2 separate regions of the Homo sapiens genome follow, and region 1 is linked to region 2. Evidence: fine-mapped expression QTL. A gene starts in region 2. The other region holds a variant in brackets. All regions are shown on one strand. Distances are from middle to middle.

What was found. PIP is the estimated chance that this variant, and not a neighbour inherited with it, causes the effect. A credible set is the group of variants that fine-mapping cannot tell apart.
Region 1: its variant is the best candidate, but not a certain one, in a credible set for the expression of NOTCH1 in whole blood (TOPMed, PIP 0.51).

Annotation. Positions count from the first base shown.
Region 1 is chr9:136,499,480-136,504,740 of GRCh38, reverse strand. NOTCH1 (notch receptor 1) reads left to right here. Exons shown (of 34, transcript NM_017617.5): 26 at 1-68; 27 at 1,411-1,559; 28 at 2,253-2,469; 29 at 2,653-2,740; 30 at 2,828-2,993; 31 at 3,894-4,189. Among named protein-coding and RNA genes, the nearest start is that of MIR4673, 18 kb to the left of the region's middle. The variant G/A (reference allele first, on the strand shown) is at 2,243.
Region 2 is chr9:136,543,540-136,548,981 of GRCh38, reverse strand. NOTCH1 (notch receptor 1) reads left to right here and starts at 2,934. Exons shown (of 34, transcript NM_017617.5): 1 at 2,934-3,256; 2 at 4,880-4,958. The coding sequence starts at 3,196. It overlaps MIR4674 (microRNA 4674), which reads left to right and starts at 2,723; the gene lies at 2,723-2,809. NALT1 (NOTCH1 associated lncRNA in T cell acute lymphoblastic leukemia 1) reads right to left here and starts at 1,140. Exons shown (of 3, transcript NR_121577.1): 1 at 881-1,140. RefSeq lists enhancers at 1,166-2,077, 4,050-4,099 and silencers at 2,270-2,369, 2,710-3,269, 3,290-3,549, 3,770-3,819.

The DNA.
Region 1 (5,261 bases), 44 kb after region 2:
TCGCTGCTCCCTGGTGGCAGCGAGGGTGGGCGGCGGCGGAGGGAGCTGGACCCCATGGACGTCCGCGGGTGAGTGAGACCCGGCGCCCACGGTCAATCCCCGCAACTCTCCTGGGCCCTCCCCGACGGCCTCCCTGCCCCTCACGGCCGGCGCCATGGCAAGCAGTACTCTCCCCACTTTATGGTAAAAGAGACGGAGGTTCCGAGAGGACCTGGGACTTCAGGGCCTGCGCAGGCAAGGAGTAGAGGCAGCATTCCAGCTCAGGGCCCTGACCCCACAGCCACACCCTTTTCCTGGGCCACTGCCTTCCCCTGGACAGGCGGCACTCCTGTGCCCAGTAGGTGATTTTGAGATTGAGCTGTGCCTTAGGCACTGGATACTACACTGATTAAAACTCAGCCCTCTGCCAGGCGAGGAGGCTCACACCTGTAATCCCAGCACTTTGGGAGGCTGAGGCAGGCGGAGCCCTTGAGCCCAGGAGTTCGAGACCAGTCTGGGCAACATAGGGAGACCTTGTCTCTGTTTTTTTTAAAAAAGTATTAAAAGAAGTAAAAAACAAAACACTCAGCTCTCCAGGGGTTCCCACAGGGCTGAACAGCCCCACCCCAGACAAGAATGCCGCTTGGTCATGGCGTCTGCCTGGCTTGGGCTGGAGAGGAGGCAGGTGGAGGTCCTGGGAGGGGGCATTGCTGGGCCTTGCAGTTGGAGGAGGAGCTGGTGGGGGTGGGGGGTCCCACGGTGGGAGAACACAGGCAGGAGCAGCTTGAGTGCAGGGGGCACCCCACAAGGCTCCCGCCCATGCCTACTCGATCTGGGGCAGCTGGACCCAGGAGCCAGGTTGGTTGTGCCCTTCGTGTGCCTGACCCTGGTGGGTTTGCCTGTCAGTTCTGCTGGCTTGGAGCAATCCTGGAGGTCAGAAGCATCATCTCACAGGCTGGATGGGATCCTGCTCACGGGAACCCAGTCCTGGGGAGCAGAGCTCACCCCCAGCCAGCCTCACCACACAGCCCACCACCGCTGCACCCACCCCCACCTCACGCCTGTGCTTCCTGCAGGGCCTGGGGATGGCTCCTGGGGGAGGACTGGGCTCCTGGCACATACTCTGTCCTGAGATGAGGAAACGTGTCTGTGGCACCAGCAGGAGCCAGAGAGGGTGTCAGGGCGGGCCAGGGAGAGCGCGTTGGTGGGTATCTGGGATGAGCCGTGATCAGCACTGGCCGGAGTCGGGGGGCTGGCACCAGTCCCCTGCAGGGTAGCTGCTGTCAGACCTGGCTTCCCACCACCCCAGGCTGCCTCACCATGTCCTGACTGTGGCGTCATGGGCCTCAGTGTCCTGCGGCAGCATCCCTGGCCGGTGGGCGGGGGAGGAGGAAGCCTCGGGTCCCAGCCCCTCTCTGATTGTCCGCCCAGCTCCATCGTCTACCTGGAGATTGACAACCGGCAGTGTGTGCAGGCCTCCTCGCAGTGCTTCCAGAGTGCCACCGACGTGGCCGCATTCCTGGGAGCGCTCGCCTCGCTGGGCAGCCTCAACATCCCCTACAAGATCGAGGCCGTGCAGAGTAAGTGTGGCCCCATCCCGGGAACAGGCTCTGCCTGCAGGGGGTGCCATCCCCCCGTGCCCCAGACACGCTGGCTGTTTGTGCCAGTTGCTACCCACGGGTGTGAGCGTTGCCGTCCGAGTTGGGGTAGGGCTTTTCTGGAATTTTCTGAATGGCACTCCGCCCCCACCTGCGGCGGTCACAGCTGCCGGTGGAGCCACCTGGGAACGAGTCCAGCCACGGGAAAGTGGGTGCCTGCTTCTCTCCCCACCCTTTCCTCCTGAATTTTCTTTGTTGGGTATTATTTCAAAATCATTACGGCTTTTTTTAAAGAAAAAAAAAGAGAGAGAGAGAAGAATTGATCGGTGTCATGTGAAGTGTTGAAGTTTGTATCTTGAAAATCCCTCTAAATCCTTTGTCTTAACAGCTCAGTGCGAGTGCAGCGATTTGAAGTTGACTAATCCTCCTTCCTTAAAGGAGAAAAAAGTAAAAGCCGTCTCCAGATAGAGTCGGCTGGTGCAGGAGAGAATTTAGCGATAGTTTGCAATTCTGATTAATCGCGTAGAAAATGACCTTATTTTGGAGGGCGGGATGGAGGAGAGTGGGTGAGGAGGCGCCCGGACGCGGAGCCAGTCCGCCGCCCCCCGGCCACCAGCCTGCTGCGTAGCCGCTGCCTGATGTCCGGGCACCTGCCCCTGGCCCCC[G/A]TGCCCGCAGGTGAGACCGTGGAGCCGCCCCCGCCGGCGCAGCTGCACTTCATGTACGTGGCGGCGGCCGCCTTTGTGCTTCTGTTCTTCGTGGGCTGCGGGGTGCTGCTGTCCCGCAAGCGCCGGCGGCAGCATGGCCAGCTCTGGTTCCCTGAGGGCTTCAAAGTGTCTGAGGCCAGCAAGAAGAAGCGGCGGGAGCCCCTCGGCGAGGACTCCGTGGGCCTCAAGTGAGCGGACGCCGCCCCTGCTTCTGGGTCCCCGGTGGGAGGTGGGACCTGGCCGAGCATCCTCACCGGGAGTCTGCCCCTCCCGACCCAGGGCCCACCTCCCACGCCAGGCCCGGGCCAGGGGTCTCTGGGGGCTTCCTAGGGAGCTCGCTCAGCCTCACTTCTCGACCCCTCACCCCCCAGGCCCCTGAAGAACGCTTCAGACGGTGCCCTCATGGACGACAACCAGAATGAGTGGGGGGACGAGGACCTGGAGACCAAGAAGTTCCGGGTGAGTCGCGAGGCTCCCGGGCTCCTGGGCTCCCGGGCACCTGCTGCCGGGCTGCCCTGACAGGCTCTGCTCACTCCCTCTATGTAGTTCGAGGAGCCCGTGGTTCTGCCTGACCTGGACGACCAGACAGACCACCGGCAGTGGACTCAGCAGCACCTGGATGCCGCTGACCTGCGCATGTCTGCCATGGCCCCCACACCGCCCCAGGGTGAGGTTGACGCCGACTGCATGGACGTCAATGTCCGCGGGCCTGGTAAGGGTGCCAGCAGCCAGGGCTTCCCTAGCCCCGTGGCCCACCTGCCTCTCTCCCCTAAGCCCCGAGGCTGGGGTACAGTTGATACTCTGGAAACTTAGAATTGGGGGTGAGAGCTTTCATCCTTGGGGTGTTTCCCATTCAGAGTAGACGTGGGGGGGTCCTGGAGTCCTCCTGTTCTTCCACCAACCCCTTCCTGGGGTGATACCGCAGGGCCACTCTGTCCCTGTAAATTACTCTTTTCTGAAACCTTCTTGAGACATGGAAAGCGTTGATTTTCTTTTTCTTTTTTTTTTTCTTTTTTTTTTGTTTTTGAGATGGAGTCTCGCTCCGTCACCCAGGCTGGAGTGCAGTGGCACGATCTCGGCTCCCTGCAACCTCCACCTCTCGGGTTCAAGCAATTCTCCTGCCTCAGCCTCCCCAGTAGCTGGGACTACAGGCGCCTGCCACCACACCTGGCTAATTTTTGTATTTTTAGCAGCGATGGGGTTTCACCATGTTGGCCAGGCTGGTCTCGAACTCCTGACCTCAGGTGATCCGCCCACCTCGGCCTCCCCCAGTGCTAGGATGACAGCGTGAGCCTCCGCATCCTGCTGAAGCATTAATTTTCTAACTGCATGCTTCTGGGGTCCTCTTTTTCCTGGGTGGATTTTGGGTGCCAGGTCTTGGGCAGGTCAGGAAGCAGTTGCCCGCCAGGAGTTTAAGCTGGATTCGGCTCTGTCCACTGAGCAGCCCAGGCGGACTTCAGCTGCCCCTTGGTGGCTGTGTGCACGGGGCCACCAAGTGCTGGGTGGTGCATCCACACCGTGGCCCCTTGAGCTTGGGGCTGCTGCCCCCCTCCCCCTGGGCTGCAGCTGGGGACCGGCCCTCCAGACTGAGCACCCGTCTCTGCCTCTGCAGATGGCTTCACCCCGCTCATGATCGCCTCCTGCAGCGGGGGCGGCCTGGAGACGGGCAACAGCGAGGAAGAGGAGGACGCGCCGGCCGTCATCTCCGACTTCATCTACCAGGGCGCCAGCCTGCACAACCAGACAGACCGCACGGGCGAGACCGCCTTGCACCTGGCCGCCCGCTACTCACGCTCTGATGCCGCCAAGCGCCTGCTGGAGGCCAGCGCAGATGCCAACATCCAGGACAACATGGGCCGCACCCCGCTGCATGCGGCTGTGTCTGCCGACGCACAAGGTGTCTTCCAGGTAGGCAGTGGCTGCCTGTGTGCCCACCTGCCCTCCTCAGGGCCGCCTGGTGGTCTGGGGCAGTGGCCAGGCTTACGTGGCCCTGGGAGCCTGACCCCGAGCACAGCTGAGTCCGGGACAACTGGTGCCTCCACCTGGGACCTTCGCAGTCAGCGAGGTGCGAGGGGGAGGGCGTCGGGCCCATCTGTGTTCTCCAGGGAAGTCAGGCAGAGGCGGGTCTGGCAGGAGGCCTGGGGGATCTGCTGAGTGAGGCAGCACCTCCCCACCCCCAGCAAAACAGGCTCCATCAGGGTTGTGGGCCTTGCTCAAGGTCCAGGTTCCACTGCTGCAGCCCCTCGCAGCCCCGCCCCTCCCTCAACCTTGGCTGCCGGCGTAGCCTGTGGCAGTGAGAAGCAGGGTTTAGAGGCTGCCGCTCGGTGCCTGCAGACCTAGGGCTCAGCTTGCCGGTGAGCTCGTGGCAAGAATGGATTTAGGGATTTGGATGCCTGGGTCTCCAGGGAGTGTCCCTGGCAGGGGCTGCCTTTGCAGTCACCCCTGCTGCGAGTCCCCAGGCTCCAGGCGGCCCTGGAGCAAGCAGGTTCAGATGGGCACAGCCCGGGGAGTTACCACAGAGCTTCTCATTTCCTGATTTCTTAGCTCAGGTGACACATTGTCATCTCGCAGAAATAAATGTAGGTGAGCAGAAAGAGCGTGGAAGGGAGCCCCGTGCGGGTTTGGTGTGTGCCTCTCTCAGCTGCCTTCTTTGCACAGATGTGGAAGTTCCCAGGTGCTTTGCAGGAATCAGGCCAAGTTGCCTTTTGCACCCGCCAGTGAGCAGGGGCCATTCCTCCTGCCAGATGCCAAGACCCGGCTGCATTACAAGGGCTGCCCACCCCCTCTCTGGGCAGAGCCGGACACTAGCTCGGCGGTTCTGAGACGGCTGTAGGGCCGTGAGCCCGGCTTCCTGAGTGCCAGCTGTAACCGCCGTTGGGGGCAGGGACTTGACCTCTCTGTTTTGTAGGTGGTCATGGCAGCTAGGACCACAGTGAGGATTAAATGAGGCCACACGTGGTCACGATGGATCCCACTGTCA
Region 2 (5,442 bases):
AGAGCTTTCAACACAGGCACCCCTCAAATACACCCACCCACCAGGTCACTGCTGACCCCCCTCTACTCGGACCACATCTCTCTGGGGCCGGAGCCGGCCCTGGGGTGTTTTAAGGTCACCTGGGTCTCCATGAGCTCCGTCGCTGTCCCCGTGTGCTCACCAGCTGTGCTTACCTCTCCACGCACTTAGGGGTGTGCTCTGCTCTCGAAAGTCCCCACAGCAGCCGCAAAGGAGGGGCCTGGTTGGGCCAATGTCAGCAGGGCCTCCTTAGCTCACCCTGACAATGGTACCCCCATTTCTCTGGCAGCAAACAAGGGGGAACTGACCCAGTTCAGTCTCCTGGGGTGCAACGCCTAAGCCACTCTCCCCTCAGCACCCGCAGGGGGCCTCTGAAGAAGAGAGGGCTGCAGGACACGTCTGCCTCTCCCCTCCGCAAACCAGGCTCTGCGGCCCCATCTCATCTGCTTCCAGGCTCCCTGGCCAGCTTGGGAACAGCCCCATTCATTCGGGGTACCCCTGGAACCTTGCCCCAGCTCCCACCACAAGTTGGGACAGGAAGCCCAAAGTGACTCCTACAGGGGAGGCCTGGCGGCACTGCACCCCAATTCAGCTTCTTGGGGTCCTAGCCCCCACCCTCCCATTGGGTTTCTGGAGTGGCTGGGGTGCCCTGCACACAACCTGCTCTTGTTTCTCTTTAGTCCCCGCAATGCCCGCTGCCCAGGGCTGCCTCCCGACCTGTAGGAGAAGGTCTCCAGGCCCTAGGCCAGCAGATGTACTCCTGTTGTGTCAGGACCCCAGCCTCCCCCGACTGCCCACACCCGCTGGCCTGACAAAGAGGAATGGGGAGCCCGGACAACTTGTGAATGAAAAAGCTTCTCACCTACTTGCCAGGGGCCTACCCCCTTCCCAGGCTGGTGGGGAGGTGAGGCCCATCCCCCTCATCCCTGGCTTCTCCTCGGCCACAGCTGTCCATGGGGTACTCCCGGCTGTGGGTGGTGCAGGGGTTGGGAGCTGGGAGGCCGAGGCCTGTGCTTCCCTCGGGCCTGTGCACCCGGCCGCACCATCCGTAACGCGGGCTTATGAGCGTGCCTGGCTGCTGGGTGGCCTGACGGGTGGACACCGAATGGGCCACTCTCTTCTCTGCTGGTAGAGGATGGAGGCCCAAGGTGGAGGTGCTGTCGGCACAGCTGGGGCAGACCAGGGGAGACCCCCTATCCAGGGATCCCCTCCTCCCCTCCCAGGCCGCCCCTCCGCAAAATGCTGAGGACTGGCCCCCGGGCCTGGGCTACATGGGCCATTACTTCTGGCCTGGGGCCCACAGGCAGAGATGCCAATGGAGGCACACAGGCAGTCGCACCCGCACCCGATCAGCACCAGGCCTGAGGCCTTCGGGCCTCCCTATGCCCCACCCCACCCCCACCCACCAGGAGCAGAGGACGTCGTGGTGGGCAGAGTCCTCAGCCTGGGAGCTGCACAGCCCCGCGCTTCCTTCTATGGAAAATCTGCTCCTCCAGGCTGCCTGGCTGCTGTTACATAAACATCTCTGCTGCCTCCAGGCGCCTCCTCTCCTGGGGCGCTGACCCCAAGATGTTACCCCAGGCCTGCAGAAGTGAGGCCAGATTCTGGGAGGACGCAGGCGAGGGAGGCTCCCAGCAGCAGCTACAGGGGCGGGACAGGCCGCCTGCACTGGCTGTTTCCAGAGTGCTCAGCATTTGGCAAGAGGTGTGCCAGGAAAGGCTTGCTGGGGTCAGGTGTGAGATTTGTCCTGCTTTCTGTGCCTGCCTCTGCCACCATGCTCTGGGGTTTCTGCAGCCCTCCCCCCAGGCCCCCACAGTCCTAGGTCCCTCCCAGCCTTTCGGTCTCCCCGCAGGGCAGGCTTAGCCCTCCTACTCCAGGAGGGGCGCCGGGACACGCGCCTTCTGCCATCGCACTCACCACCCTGTGTTGGGGTGGGGAGGGGGCGCTGTCTGTCCCTGGCACGAGGCCGTGAACTTTGCGCAGGGACTATGGCAGGCATTTTGGACTCCTGGCGCTTAACCAGGCTTGGCACAGGGTGCCCGTGCCTGGCATCGTGGTGGAGAAATAAATCAGCCGGAAGGAGCACGTGGGAAGGGCTGCGCCGGCGCCAGCGGCAGATCCGCCCGACCCGTTTGTGCTTTCTGGGGCCACCTTAGGCAGGCGGCGCCCGGGCAGGAGGAGGACGGTGACCGAGGAGCGTGTCGACGCGGGTCCCCCTTGGGGGAGCGGGGCACAATCCGTCCGCGAGGCACTGGTCCCGGCTGCTCCCTCGGGGCGCCCGGAGTCCCCTGCCCAGAGGCCGCGGCGCCCCCATCCCTCGCGGTCAAGTGCTCGGGCAATCACGGCCAGGGATGTCTGGCGGCGATCGATCCTCTGGACGCCTAAAGCCGCGGCCACGGGGCCCTCGGGAGGGAGTGAAGCCGCTGGGCTAGGGGCGCACACACGGCTAGGCCACTCTCCCAGAGCCCTGCCCCGGGCCCGGGGTCCCCCAACGTGGCCTCAGCTGCTCCCCGCCCGGCCCAGCGCACGGTGCACACGGCTGTCCGCGGCCTCGCCCTCCCCATTCCGCCCCGGGCTCCTCCGCTTATTCACATGCAAATTTCAGTCGCCAGTTGTCGCCGAGCGCGGCAACCGCCAGAGCCGGATCCTTCCGCAGCCCCGGCTCAAACTTTTGGCCTCTGAAAACTTTCAAACGAGAAGTAGTCCCAGGCGCCCGCTCCCGACCCACGCCGCGCCGCCGGGTCCCTCCTCCCCGGAGAGGCTGGGCTCGGGACGCGCGGCTCAGCTCGGGGAGGCGCAAAGGCGGACGGGGCGTGCGGGAGGAGGTGGCCGCGGAGGGGGCGGGGGGACCGGCGGGGGTGGGGCCGGGCGGGGCGGGGCCGGCGGGGGCGGAGCGCACCTCGACTCTGAGCCTCACTAGTGCCTCGGCCGCGGGAGGGAGCGCAAGGGCGCGGGGCGCGGGGCGCGGGCGCGGGCGCGAGCGCAGCGAAGGAACGAGCCGGGCGCGGAGCCGGGCCCGGGGGCCTGCGAGAGCACAGCGCCGCCAGCCAGCCGGGGAAGAGAGGGCGGGACCGTCCGCCGCCGCCCCGGGACCGTACGCCGCGCGTGTGCGTCCCAGCCCCGCCGGCCAGCGCAGGAGGCCGCCGCCCGGGCGCAGAGGGCAGCCGGTGGGGAGGCATGCCGCCGCTCCTGGCGCCCCTGCTCTGCCTGGCGCTGCTGCCCGCGCTCGCCGCACGAGGTAGGCGCCCACCCACCCGCGAGCCCCCACTTTCCGCGCCCTTTGGAAACTTTGGCGGCGCCCGGCGCGCGCGCCCCACGGCTGGGAGCGGGCGGCGGGGAGGCCAGCATGGAGAGGGAAAAGCGGGCGGCCCGGGGCGTGGGGTTCTGGAGTCCCGGGATCAGGGAGGACCGACCTTCCCCCTCGATCCCCCCGTGGAGGCGGACTCGCGCCGCCCGTGCCTGGAGCCGAGTTAGGAGGCCGGTGTGGGGTGCTGGGGCCCCGGAGGCCCTACTCCGGGCCCGCCCTTCACCCGCCGCGCGTGGGGCTTGCCGCCGGTCGGCCGGGCGGGCGGGCTGCCTACTATTTTTCGATTTGAATAGAGTCGGTTTTGGTTTCCTGTTGCTTCTCCGGGCCATTTATCTTCTTTCTTCTTCGCCTCTGGCCCACGCCGGGGCGGATGTTGGGGCGCGGAGTGTGGGCTCTGCGGCGCCGCGTTCGCCTTCACTGACCCGCGCGGCCGGGCTGGGTCCCCGGGCTCCCGGTCGCCCCGCCCGCCGGTGCCCCCCAGCCCGGCTCTCAGTTTGGGGGAGGGGTTGCGTAAGAAGCCGCCGCGCCCGGGGGGACTGAACTTTCCTTTTGCTTTGCGGAGTTGAAGTTTGGAAAGCTTGGGGGCGGAGAGCGGGACGCGGGTGGGGGGCTCTTACATTTCTCCCCGCCGCACAGCGAGCGGGGTCTCTGGGGAATCGAGTGATTAATCCACTCTTTCTCCGAGAGTTGGAGGCGAGAATTATCTGTCCTCTTCCAGAAAGTGCGGCTCTGTGTCACACCCCCCTCCCCCGTTTCTCAGCCCCGGTAAGATGGGGAGGGAGGGGCTTGAGTAATTGATCCCTTCTCGAGATGGGGTCGAATTCCTTCCGAATGGGGGACCTTCATCCCCCTCCTGTGGGTGTATGGGGGCTGCCCTGGAGATGCGCGCCCGCGGAGGCAGGTATTGGGTGTCGGCGGAGGCGGGGCCGCGTCCCCAGGGTGCTGTCCCGGTGCCCCTGGAGGCGGCCCCGACTCCACAATGGGCCGCTCTGATTCTGAGGCGGAGGCCGGCGCTTTGTTGGCGGGCGGGGTAGCGGGCGAGCAGCTGTCGCATTTTCCCACGGGCGGGAGCTGAGTGTGGCCACCCCCCCTCCCCCCGTCCAGCTCTGCCCCCTTGCAGAACGGGTTTGAACAGAGGCAATCTCGGCGGCTGGATGGGGGGCCCTGCCCTGCCAGACTCCTCAGTGAGCCTCCAGGGTGGGGGGCAACGCTTTGGAGAGTAGCCCACTTTGTCTCTGCTTTTCCCCCACTGCGTCCAGGCGGCACATCAGGCCACCCCACCCTGCTTCAAGCAGGACGTGTTCCCTGCTGCTCCCCTTCCCCCCATTTCTGACTACAGAACTCTGGGCAGAATGTTGACGCCCCTTTGGTTTCATGGAGGGGCTTCCTGCGGACCCGTGCCCCAGCAACCCATGATACTGAGCAGAGTGCGTCCGGGGTAGGGGGCGGACGATGCCCCTTGGCTGGGTGCAGGTCCCCGCCCCCAGGGTAACCAGGGCCTTCGGTGGTGGTGGTGCGGGTGAGACTGACCTCTCTTCTCCTGCCCCTGCCTAGGCCCGCGATGCTCCCAGCCCGGTGAGACCTGCCTGAATGGCGGGAAGTGTGAAGCGGCCAATGGCACGGAGGCCTGCGTGTGAGTACCACCCCTGCGGGACCTGTTGCTTTGTCGAGGGCAGAGCCCCTGCCTTCTGCAGCCGCGCAGGGGACAGAACACTAGGCCATTGTCTTCTGGAGATGGCCCAGAGTCTGGGCACGGTCACGTGCTGACTTTTATTGGACAAAGTCTGGCAATTACTTAATCACCAGCAATTATGCTGCGTGTGGAGCTGGTCTGGCTGCTGAGGGCTTGGGCACTCCTCCGTGGGCCACCTCAGGCTCCGGGGTCACTAAGTGGGAGTCCCAGTACCCCAATTCTTCTTTAAGTCCCCAAGAAACAGTTGATCTGCCAGGGGAAGCTCTGGACCATTTACTGAGAGGCCCAGCCCCCACCACCCTGCCAACTTGGGGCGCCTCCTCTGGGCGGGTGATGCCTCCTGGGCACAGGTGATGCCTCCTCTCGGGGGTGATGCCTCCTAGGTGGGTGGTGATGCCTCTTGGGCTGGTAGTGATGCCTCCTC